Linked DNA regions of Homo sapiens. The protein of the gene in region 1 binds, or shares a complex with, the protein of each later gene. Each region holds a gene or a part of one and is shown in the gene's direction. Other genes may lie near its edges.

The links.
Region 2: the proteins of SIKE1 (region 1) and SLMAP are in contact, whole or in part, in a crystal structure (PDB 6AKM), measured with the Homo sapiens proteins. Residues at the interface, in NP_079349.2 of Homo sapiens: Ile5 (codon at 1,991), Ile8 (codon at 2,000), Leu9 (codon at 2,003), Ala12 (codon at 2,012), Lys13 (codon at 2,015), Leu16 (codon at 2,024), Leu19 (codon at 2,033), Arg20 (codon at 2,036), His22 (codon at 2,042), Asp23 (codon at 2,045), Ala26 (codon at 2,054), Glu27 (codon at 2,057), Leu29 (codon at 2,063), Val30 (codon at 2,066), Ser33 (codon at 2,075), Ala34 (codon at 2,078), Leu36 (codon at 2,084), His37 (codon at 2,087), Val40 (codon at 2,096), Met43 (codon at 2,105), Arg44 (codon at 2,108); in NP_001291349.1 of Homo sapiens: Leu168, Tyr171, Leu172, Glu174, Ala175, Arg178, Glu179, Met181, Leu182, Lys185, Thr188, Leu189, Leu192, Leu193, Ile195, Thr196, Ala199, Ser200, Thr202, Ser203.
Region 3: the proteins of SIKE1 (region 1) and STRN3 are in contact, whole or in part, in a crystal structure (PDB 6AKL), measured with the Homo sapiens proteins. Residues at the interface, in NP_079349.2 of Homo sapiens: Glu96 (codon at 3,322), His97 (codon at 3,325), Ala100 (codon at 3,334), Leu103 (codon at 3,343), Ile104 (codon at 3,346), Ser106 (codon at 3,352), Lys107 (codon at 3,355); in NP_001077362.1 of Homo sapiens: Arg176, Leu179, Tyr182, Leu183, Val186, Tyr188.

What each region holds. Positions count from the first base shown.
Region 1 is NC_000001.11:114,778,838-114,782,585, reverse strand, and holds the start of SIKE1 (suppressor of IKBKE 1), read left to right. Parts: upstream 1-1,900; 5' UTR 1,901-1,978; coding exon 1,979-2,137; coding exon of another isoform or gene 2,138-2,149; exon of another isoform or gene 2,150-2,199; intron 2,200-2,370; coding exon 2,371-2,476; intron 2,477-3,301; coding exon 3,302-3,444; intron 3,445-3,748.
Region 2 is NC_000003.12:57,754,510-57,758,257, forward strand, and holds the start of SLMAP (sarcolemmal membrane-associated protein), read left to right. Parts: upstream 1-1,799; 5' UTR 1,800-1,833; intron 1,834-2,038; 5' UTR 2,039-3,142; coding exon 3,143-3,340; intron 3,341-3,748. UniProt on the Homo sapiens protein: Associates with the striatin-interacting phosphatase and kinase (STRIPAK) core complex, forming the extended (SIKE1:SLMAP)STRIPAK complex.
Region 3 is NC_000014.9:31,019,697-31,023,444, reverse strand, and holds part of STRN3 (striatin-3), read left to right. Parts: intron 1-3,748. UniProt on the Homo sapiens protein: Calmodulin-binding scaffolding protein which is the center of the striatin-interacting phosphatase and kinase (STRIPAK) complexes.

The sequences.
Region 1 (3,748 bases):
AAAGTAAACTGCTTTCATGAGACACAGGGACAGTCTTGTGTTCAAAAATATTAAGATTCATTTAACAATTCTGCCTCTATCTGAATTAATATAATTTATTCTGTGCCTTGATACTAAATAATTTAAGTGTTTAGCTACCTATGAACTTCTTTTCCTGTTATTCTCAAAACTAGGCAGGGTTTATGACCTTTGTGTTTGAAATGTTGTTAATTCTTTCTGTTTTGTTTTACCTACAAAAGTTGAAACTCTTCAATCCCGCCATGCCTAGAGACTATAACGTAATGTTGTAAGGGCCAGTATTGAGAGCTAAAATTAGTTCAGACCCTACAAATCAAGGATGACACAGATGCCAAAACAGCTAAACAAAATGCTTGCATTTTGTATAGCTAATTGCAACAAGCCAAGATTACAGCAGCTCAATGCATAGAATTTATAGATAAGTCAATTTTGTAACCCTTGCCTTTTGGTTTTTGCCTCTTAACATTGCTTAAGAGGGGTTTTAAGGTTAATGAGTGCCTGCCCACCTCCTTCCCATCTGACCTAGAACGTTTAATTGGCTGTAACTCTTTTGACTCTAAGTCAGTTGGCCGCAGGAGGGACATGATGGACTCAGGGCAGGTAGCACACCACCCTGGCATTGATATGGGACAAAATTAAAGTTTGGACACTGATACTGTCTCTGGGATACCTTGACCAAAAAAAAAAAAAAAGTGGAATGCTGTTTTGAAGGCATGAGCCTAGCCATTCCCCATCTGCGAGCATTTGATTAGTAAAGCTTTCACCACAGGTCACTTCTCATGTTTTTGGCCTCTAGGCAGCAAGCAGCCAGACGTGAGCCAGTTGCAATAGCAGCATTATTGACAATAGCAAAAGGTGGAAGCAACCCAACTGTCCATCCACGGATGAATGGATAAACAAAACGTGGTATATATATATTATTCAGCCTTAAAAAGGAAGGAAATTCTAACATATGCTACTATATGGATGAAACTCGTGGACATTACACTAAGTGAAATAAGGCAGTTATATAAATACAAATGCTGTATGATTTCACTCATGTCAGGTACCCAGAATAGTCAGATTTGTAGAGACACAAAGTAGAATGGTGGCTGCCAGGAGCTGGGGATAAGGAAGAATGAGGAATTATTGTTTAATGAGTACAGAACTTCAGTACTGCAAGATGAAAGAGTTCTAGAGATGGATGCTGATGGTGGCTGTATAACAATATGAATGTACAACTGAACTGTACACTTATAAATGGCTGAGATATTAAATTTTATGTGTATTTTGCCACAATTTAAAAAAAATTAAATGAAAGTAGGCCAGGCGCGGGGGCTCACACCTGTAATCCCAGCACTTTGGGAGGCCGAGGCGGGCGGATCACTTGAGGTCAGGAGTTCGAAACCGGCCTGGCCAACATGTGAAACCCCGTTTCTACTAAAAATAGAAAAATCAGCCGGCGTGGTGGCGCATGCCTGTAATCCCAGCTACTCGAGAGGCTGAGGCAGGAGAATCGCTTGAACCCTGGAGGCAGAGGTTGCAATGAGCCAAGATCGCGCCACTGCACTCCAGCCTGGACAAGAGCAAGATTCCGTCTCAAAAAAGAAAAAAATAATGAAAATAAAAAGAAACTAACTGTGACTGAAGAACAACCCACATCAATGAAAACCAGTAGGGAAAGGAGACCTTCCCACTGCCCAGCTAATCATAGCCTGACCACCAGGCTGTGGTAACTGGAAACCAACGGCGTGGCAAGTGTAGGTCTGGGGCTCCGCGCAAGGAAGGACTGCAAGGAAGCCGCAGGTTAAAGCGGGTCAACCCGCAAAATAGGCTGCCACTGCGCAGGCGCCCATTGCGCCTACCAAGACACCTTGTAAACGTGCCCGGAAATGACGCCTGTAATGCTGAGACAGACTCCCAGAAGATCTGAGCGAGTCGCGTAGCTGAGCCCGGCAGGGGCTGGGGTGGTGCTGCTGCTATGAGCTGCACCATCGAGAAGATCCTGACAGACGCCAAGACGCTGCTGGAGAGGCTACGGGAGCACGATGCGGCCGCCGAGTCGCTGGTGGATCAGTCGGCGGCGCTGCACCGGCGGGTAGCAGCTATGCGGGAGGCGGGGACAGCGCTTCCGGACCAGGTCAGGCAGAGGGTAGGAGTCCAGTGCTCTCGGATTCTGGGCACTGAAGGGTGGAGAGCGAGGTAAAGTGGGAACTCGGCCTGGAATTTATTCCCGGTCTCAGAGGGCGGCGGTGAGACCATTTTCCTGGGTCGGGGCTGAGAATCCTGCCCTGGAGCCCTAACTTCTGCCTCTTCAGTTGCATCTGCCGCTGTTCTCTTTAAGGCATGCTTAGTCTGTCTCTATTTGTCCAGTATCAAGAGGATGCATCCGATATGAAGGACATGTCCAAATACAAACCTCACATTCTGCTGTCCCAAGAGAACACACAGATTAGAGACTTGCAACAGGAAAACAGAGGTTAGTCAGGCCTTTTCATATCTGGTAATAGTTTAAAGTTATTGCAAAATTGCCCTAAACATTTACAAAAGTGTACATATATTTCCAGGTCAGTACTTTTAGTAGGAGAGTCCTCCTGATCTGGCCCAGTAACAATAAAGTTTGTTAGATTACCCTTTTCAAGGTCATCTGACTAATATTGCAGCAGCTTACCAAAGAGGTGCTGTGTAGAGTTGGTATTATTGCATGGTTTATTTTTAAGCATCCTCAGATGTGTAACAAAAGAGTTCATAGCCTCATGGACTTAAAATTTAATGTTTAAGTATTAATATAAACACTGAAGGTAAGATTTAAGGTTTTGTTTATGTTCTTGTTTGTGCAAGGTGAAGCAGCAGAATTTTATTCTAAGGGTATATATTCTTAGGCTTGATTAGTACATTATTAATGATTGTGGTATTAATAGTTGTTTACCAGAGGGGTTTCACATATATCATTCTACTGTATTCTCATATCTTCATTTTTATCTACCACAATGCAGTTAAGAAATAGGCTCAGAAGAAGCTAAATGATTTACTTATGAGTATTAACCAAGCAAGTTACAGAACTGAACTCAAACACATGTCTTCTGATGATACATCCATTGTTGTTTCTGCAAGACTTTGCTTCTCTGCCTAGAAAGTTACCTTTCACATAGACTTTAACTGTTCAGTTTTGCGGACTTAAACATTGATTTACAACTTTAGATTCATATTATCTATATAGTGTTACAAAATTCCAACTGTTAAGACTTTGGATTTGGGAACTGTCTCTCAGACATCACTGCCAAGTTCTTTTATTTTTTGACAGAGCTATGGATTTCCTTGGAGGAACACCAGGATGCTTTGGAACTTATCATGAGCAAATATCGGAAACAGATGTTACAGTTAATGGTTGCTAAAAAAGCGGTGGATGCTGAACCAGTCCTGAAAGCTCACCAGTCTCACTCTGCAGTAAGAAACTTTGAATAAATTCGAAATGAACCAAATTGAAATCTTGAGATTGTTTTAGATTGTGTGCTTGTTTTTTTGCTTTGTGAGATAGGGTCTGGCTCTTGTCGACCAGGCCGTGGTGTAATGGCACGATCTCGGCTCACTGCAACCTCTGCCTCCTGGGCTCAAGCCATCGTCTCACCTCTGCCTCCGGAGCAGCTGGGACTACAGGTGCACACCACCACGCCCTGTTAATTTTTGTGGGGTTGTTTGTTTGTTTGTTTGTTTGTTTGTTTTTTGGTAGAGATGACATTTCGCCATGTTG
Region 2 (3,748 bases), on another chromosome or scaffold:
ACTTTGTGTCCCGCCTACTTTATCCTCTAATAATGAGTAACAGTATGTAATTTTCATTCATGCATCAAATACTTATTTATCCACTATTATGTGCCGGCACATTGGTGCACTGTTTCAAGTAGGCTCCTTCTTTTCCTTGCTATCCGTGTTTGTGGAAATTCATGAAACCATTCAGCGAATACCATATTTATTGTGGTTTTCCTATCTTCCTTCATTCAGTTCAGTTACTTCTCCCAGACCATCCCTGACCCCTTGGGCAGCTAGTGCCTGCCTCTATCTTAGCCCTGATTACATCAATTTCATGTTTGTCACTCCCTACCCTCATTTCTAACCCACAATACCGTTATGATCTCAGAAGGCAGGAATTGAAGTTTGGTTCAGTTATGTGTCCCCAGGGCCCAGCAAAAACCTAGGACACGGCCAAACTGTCTATATAAGTATTGAGATGAATAACTGCTACTTTTTCTTTCTTTCTTTCTTTTTTTTTTTTTTTTTGGAGAGACAGTTTCACTCTTGTTGCCCAGGCTGGACTGCAATGGCGCGATCTTGGCTCACCGCAACCTCCGCCTCCCGGGTTCAAGTGATTCTCCTGCCTCAGCCTCCCAAGTAGCTGGGATTACAGGCATGCGCCACCACGCCCGGCTAATTATGTATTTTTAGTAGAGACGGGGTTTCTCCATGTTGGTCAGGCTGGTCTCAAACTCCCGACCTCAGGTGATCCGCCTGCCTCGGCCCCCCCAAAGTGCTGGGATTACAGGCGTGAGCCACCGCGCCCGGCCTAATTGCTACTCTTTATTGAACAACATGGATTAACATTTTGAAGTCTCACCACATCAAGTGAATTAACTATTATTAACATGTCATCCATGAGAAAAAAGAGGCTTGAAAAAGTTTAGAAACTTGCTTAAGGTCACACAGTGGTGGAGCCTGTTATTGCAGGAATCTGAAGAATGAAGTCACCTTTGATTCTAAATGAGTAAGTCTCCTTCTCACTATTTTTTCTTAAAGTTTTCATTTAGCCCTTGCAAAGTCTTCCTTCTTTAGACCAATGACTCCTCATCTTGATATTGTAAGTGGGGGAAATACCCTCTTTTTTCACTTTGGAAATTATTCAATCTCTCTTTGGAAGAAACATGATTTTAAACTTTCTGGACGCTCCTTCTGTGGAAGAATCCGCGCAGGAGCCCTGGGGGCACATAATAGGTTCAGTGAGAAAGACTGTCATTCGAAATGGAATGCGGGAACTAAGATTTTTTTTTTCCGGGAAGAAAACATAACGAATTTAGCAGAGGGGAGAATGGTCCTTCTGTTAGGTGCACAAATCCTAAGACTTCAGGGAGTTTGGCGGCTCACACTTAAGGTAGCTGCGGGTGACTGTGTTGCCCACAGCTAAGATGGCTGCTAATGACCATCTCCTTTGGCTGGGTCTGTTCTTTTGCTCGCTAGTATTTTCATCGAGAATTAAACAGAATAAAATTTAGTAAAAGTTGGCACCCCCTTGCTAAGTAGATAAAATAAGAAGGTGGCACTGTTTGTTTGAAAAACCTTCTACGGCGCAAATTGTTCTTGCCCTTAACCAAAATGGTCGTTAAGGTTGTCCCGAGGTTTGAAGCTTCCAGCCCTTAACTAAGATGGCGCCTGGAGGCCCGTTAAAAATTACCTTGCCCTTTTTTCTGCCCTCTACCAACACGGCTTCCGTGGCGTCGTTCACGTGACATTCCTGGACTACGGCGCGGGAGAGGGGGTAGGAGGGCCCTTGAAGGGTGCGCGTTCCCGTGGCGGTGCACCGGGTAGGTTTCAGTCAGAGTCACTATGGCGGCCGGCGCTGGCAAGGTAAGCTGAGGCGGTGGTGGCGGCTAGGGAGGTAGGACCCGTCGTGGCGTCCTGGCTCCAAATCCTCGTAGCCTGCTTGCGGAGAGGTCGGCGGAGGTCGTGCCTAGCGGTGTGGGCTGGCGGGGGTCTGGCTGGAGGGGGCGACGGCTGAGGCGGGCGGGCTGAGGCGCCTGACGGCCGTTTGTTTTGATGTTTTCCCCACCAGGTCGGAAAGTTTCCTGCCTCGTCGGGCGCAGCTTGAGCTTGCCCCATCGGCCGCGATCGGTGGAGGCTGCGGCGGATCCAGCCCGGGGCCTCAAGGCCTCTCCCCAACCTCCGGGCCAGTCTCCCTCCCCCACCTTCTCGTCCGCCGGGAGCTGCGGCTGCCGTCCCTGAGATGCGACCCTCGCGGGGGCGACCCTGAGGGGAGGCGGCCCATGTGCTGAGCGGCGGCCCAGAAGCCTAGGCGTCCGGGGACCAACTTCCTGCCGCCTGGGAACTCGAGCCTCCCGGTGTCGCGCCTCGCTCGGTCCGCACCGGCCTGCGGAGCCGGGTCCCCGCCCTGGTCGCGGGGACGCTCGCCAGGTGCCCAGGAGTCCCGACTTGGCCACTGCCCGCGCCCCGCCGGCCTCCACGCCTCGCGCGGAGAACCTCAGCCACCGCCGTCTCGGATCGTGCCAGGCCGGGGACCGCGTCCCCCTTCCCGGGGCGGCCTCCGCTCAGCAGGGGCGATGCAGACTGTCCCGCCGGCCGTCTAGAGCCCCTCCGTCTCCGTCACCTCTCGCCCCTTCACTCCGGGCGAGGACTGGCGGTGGCTGCCCAGAGGTGCCCAGCCACACCTTCCTTCGGCCCAAAAGGACTTTCCTGGCCGCGCCGAACCGACCCTTCATTCATGCTGCAGTGCTGCAACGTTTCCGCCACCAAGGGGGAAAAGCGGCCGCGATCTCAAACCAAACACAAGAATTGGCGTGTGACTCATCTGCTTGGATACCTCCAGTCCCCAAACTGTGTTCCAGGAGTTTTCTTGGCCGAAGCTGCCCGATGTTTGAGCCTTTTCTTCCCAGAGAAGAAGATGGACTGAAAGCTGCCAGTTGGGGACTTTTTGTGATCACGGCGTTGCAGCGTTTTAAAGGAGGTGATGGGGCTTGCGCTGGCTTGTCTTCCCACCCAAGTGAAGAGTTGATGTTCACTGGTTATGCTTAGACAATGTGCAGTTTGTGTTAATTTAAAATTTTGGGTGGGATAGGGGCATAGGCTTGTGAAGGGCAGTCCGGATCCGGAGGAACTCCTCTTTGTCCCTGGTAGGAGAGACACCCCCAGTCTATCCTCGATGCCGTCAGCCTTGGCCATCTTCACTTGCCGCCCGAACTCGCACCCGTTTCAGGAGCGTCATGTCTACCTGGACGAGCCCATCAAAATCGGCCGCTCAGTGGCCCGCTGTCGACCAGCGCAGAATAATGCCACTTTTGATTGCAAAGTGCTATCAAGGAACCACGCTCTCGTCTGGTTTGATCACAAGACGGGCAAGGTAATGTCACCACATTGTCCAGCGGCATTGTTTAACAAACTTTTTTTCCCCTTTTGCCCTCCCTGAGAGGACTAATGTATGCAGGATCCCAGGGTTTGCATCCAGAGGAGGCTTTGCGCAAAGCCACGAATCAACTGTTTGTGTGCCTGGTTCTAGTGGAAATTTGATTGAGGTGGTTGAATGGAAAACAGAGAAGGTATTGTAATTAAAAGCCTCAGGAGGGCTATGGCATCTTGATAACGTGGTCATTCCCAGTGAAATCCCAAACTAGATAGTGAAACTTGGCGTCTTGCTTTTAGTCTGTTTAGAAAGGTGAATTCACAGTTCAGCGCTTTATTAAGCAAGCAGCAGTTCTCGAAGCAATTCGGGGAATCCGTGGCCATTATTATCCCGGGGCTCAAGTGTCTT
Region 3 (3,748 bases), on another chromosome or scaffold:
ACTTTACAGTATGATTCTGTTCTCTGTAAAAAGAATTTAGAGTAAAGGTCTGTCTTAGAAACTTGGAACCAAACTAAAGGATCACATCTTAAAGCTCTTCTGTCTCTGATTCTTCCTTACCTTAGACTCAGGTAAAGCATTGTTAGTAAGGTCATAGGACAGTGGTTTCTTAACTTTTATATAACATGAATTACCAAAATTCCACAGACAGTCCATTTTCTTCAAGCCCTAGATCAATCCAGATCTCCAGAGGATAAGAGGCCTGCATATTTTTTAGAGTTCTACAAGTGATTCTTTCTTCACAGTAGTGCCTGTTAAAGAGAAAAATTACTACACTACACTTTTCTTTTTTGTAATTTCATAGTAGATTCATTAAAATCTTGTCATGGAAAAGACACTAGGATTTGCAAATTACTATTCCAGACCAGCTTTTGAAAACCCTGAAAATGGAAAATTCAGGAGATTCCCCCCTTAAAAATGAAGAAATCAAGTAAGTCTAAGCAAAATATCTCCTACTAACTTAAGGATCTTTAAGCAGCAACATCTATCATGTTACGACTTCTAAAAGTTAGAAACTGCCATTTAATCAGCACTATAACCTCATGAGGTGAGTATTCCTGTTTTACAGGTGAGGAGACAAATTTAGGTAGGTTAAATCATTTTGCCAAGGTCACCTAGCCATAAAGTATTGCAGCTGAGATTTGAACCCAAGTCTGTCTGATTCCAAAGCCTGTAGTCATGTTACCACTCTTGTAACCATTATGTTATACTGTCTTAGCTCTTTTTTATAGAGTGGAATCTGACTTGTAATTCTTCATCTAGTATTGCGTGGCCCACACCACTTGAGTACATTTCAATAAAGTTTTATTGAGCGCCTGTGATGCTGCTGCAAGGCATAGTTTATATATATTGCTAATGTGTCCTTATATTTTTCTTTATAGTTTGTATGTAGTAAGTGGATTTTGGGTATATACAAAATGCTTGTTTGCCAAGTGTAAAAATATGACATAGCTAATACAAGAAAATGTAGTCAAAGAGTTTATGTTCTTTTTTTTTTTTTTTGAGATGGAGTCTCGCTCTACTGTCGCCCAGGCTGGAGTGCAGTGGCACCATCTTGGCTCACTGCAAGCTCTGCCTCCCAGGTTCACGGCATTCTCCTGCCTCAGCCTCCCCAGTAGCTGGGACTACAGGTGCCTGCCACCACGCCCAGCTAATTTTTTTGTATTTTTAGTAGAAATGGGGTTTCACCGTGTTAGCCAGGATGGTCTTGATCTCCTGACCTCGTGATCTGCACACCTTGGCCTCCCAAAGTGCTGGGATTACAGGCGTGAACCACCGCGCCCGGCCGACAGTGATTTTTCATAAAGGTGTTCCCTTTGTTCTGGGATTTTTAGCCTTCATACATTTTTACTGTTAGGCATTTCCTTTTTCAGATGATGGTGATAATAGTTAAAAAAATTTTATTGATAGTATTAAGGGAGTCCACTACCTTGTGTCAGATTCCCTGTTTCTTTTTGAAGCCCTTGAAATGAAGTTTAGGGACCACTGATCTAGAATTCTCTTTATGCTCCTCCACTACCCATTAACCCCACTCTGTAGTCTGCCTTTTCGCTTTCTTCTCTCCTCCCTTCTAAACACTTCGTAGAACACTATGTTTTCTGTTCATGATTGACCTTCAAATTGCCAAATCCTTTGGCCTTATAAACCGTATGTACTTAACCAACACTCTGTTGTTAACAAATCCTTCAAAACTGTTTTCTTTTGCTTCCGCTCTGTTTTTCCTGTCATCCACTTATCACTTTTCTTCATATGTTTTCTTTCTTTTGTTCCCAGTTGTTATTATGTGGGGTTCTGGTTCTATTTTATGTTCTCACTGTATATTCAGAATCAGATTTTTAGCTACCATGTACCATCTTAATAATACCTAGCATTTATTTACTCTTTCCTAATTGTTATTTCAGTGCTTCAGTATTTCAGTATTCATTTAATTCATTCAGTATTCATTTAATTCTCAAAACAACTCAGTGAGGTTGATACAGGTATAATTGGTGTCTTTTTTTTATTTTTTCTGACACTGGCATATCGAGGCCCAAAGGTTAAGTAATCTATGCAACTAGGAGGCAGTAGAACTGGGATTTAAACTTAGACTGCCTGTAGAGGCCATGTTCTTAACCACTACTAGATTTTTGGCGTCCAGATGTCCCTTGTATTTCTAACTTCCGTTTAGTTTTTCTACCTCAAATTCAATACATCCATTCAGTTAATCTCAAGTGCCTGCCTCTTTCCCTTGACAAAACACACTTGCTCATTCTTTATTCCTTGCCACATTAAAGTTAACACTATCCTCCCCATCGCTAGTACTATAGAGGTCATTGAACCTTCCCCCTGCGTATGGCCTGTGAGTTTTATTGATTCCAGCATGATTATTTGGTGATATTTGAGTGCGATTTTGTGCTAGATCCTGGGTGTATAATGATGTATGAGACACAGACTTTGTCCTCAGGGAGCTTATACTCTAGAAATAATTTTTTTTTTTTTCAAGAGAGCGTCCTACTCTGTTGCCGAGGCTGGAGTGCAGTGGTGCCAACATGGCTTACTGTAGCCTCAGGCTCCCGAGCTCAACTGATCCTCCTGCTGCAGCCTCCCGAGTAGGTGGGACTACAGACATGGACTATCACACCAAGCTGTTTTTATTTTTAGTTCAGGTGGGTTCTCAGTTTGTTGCCCAGGCTGGTCTTGAACTCCTGGGCTCAAATGATTCTCCCACCTCATCCTCCCAAAGTCCAAGTATTGGGATTACAGGCATGAGCCATCATGCCTGGCCAATAAAATGTTACAACAAATTAGCAGAATGCTGAGAGAATAAATGGTGATAGGAAACCTGTATATGTAATGGAGTTTCAGATAATACCTAATATTTATTGAGCACTTTCTTTTTTTTTTTTTAGAGACAGTTTTCGCTCTGTCACTCAGGCTGGAGTACAGTGGTGCTATCTCAACTCACTGCAACCTCCACTTCCTGGGTTCAGGCAGTTCTCATGCCTCAGTCTTCTGAGTAGCTGGAATTACAAGCACCCACCAACACGCCCAGCTAATTTTTGTATTTTTTGTAGAGATGGAGTTTCACCATGTTGGCCAGGCTGGTCTTGAACTCCTGACCTCAAGTAATCCGCCTGCCTTGGCCTCCCAAAGTGCTAGGATTACAGGCATGAGCCACTGCGCCTGACCTATTGAACACTTTCTATATGGTTGACATTATTTTTGGTTCTTCAGTACATTTAATTCTCATAAAGTTCCTAAATGTATACTTCTAGATCTGAAGTATCGGGAATACCTAATTGTACAAAGAACATGCCAGTTGGAAGCTACAGCATTTAGCAGAAGTTCTAAAGTAGGAAAGAGCTTCATTTAAACTGTGAACTGGCCAGGTGTGGTGTCTCACGCTTGTAATCCCAGCGCTTTGGGAGGTTGAAATGGGAGGATCACTTGAGCCCAGGAGTTGGAGACCAGCCTGGGCAACAGTGAGACCCTGTATCTAAAAAAGAAAAAAAAAAAAAAGAAAATGAGTGAACTGGACTATAATGATTCAAAAGGCTAAGTAATATAGGTAACATCAGTATCCTAAAGTATATTCTAATTCACTGATGCTTGATTTTTTGGGGGATTGTATAGTCCCCTTTGCATATATTATGAATGCTGTGGAGCCTCTTCTAGTTTTTTTTCAAAAAAGGTAAGAAAATTTTGCTTA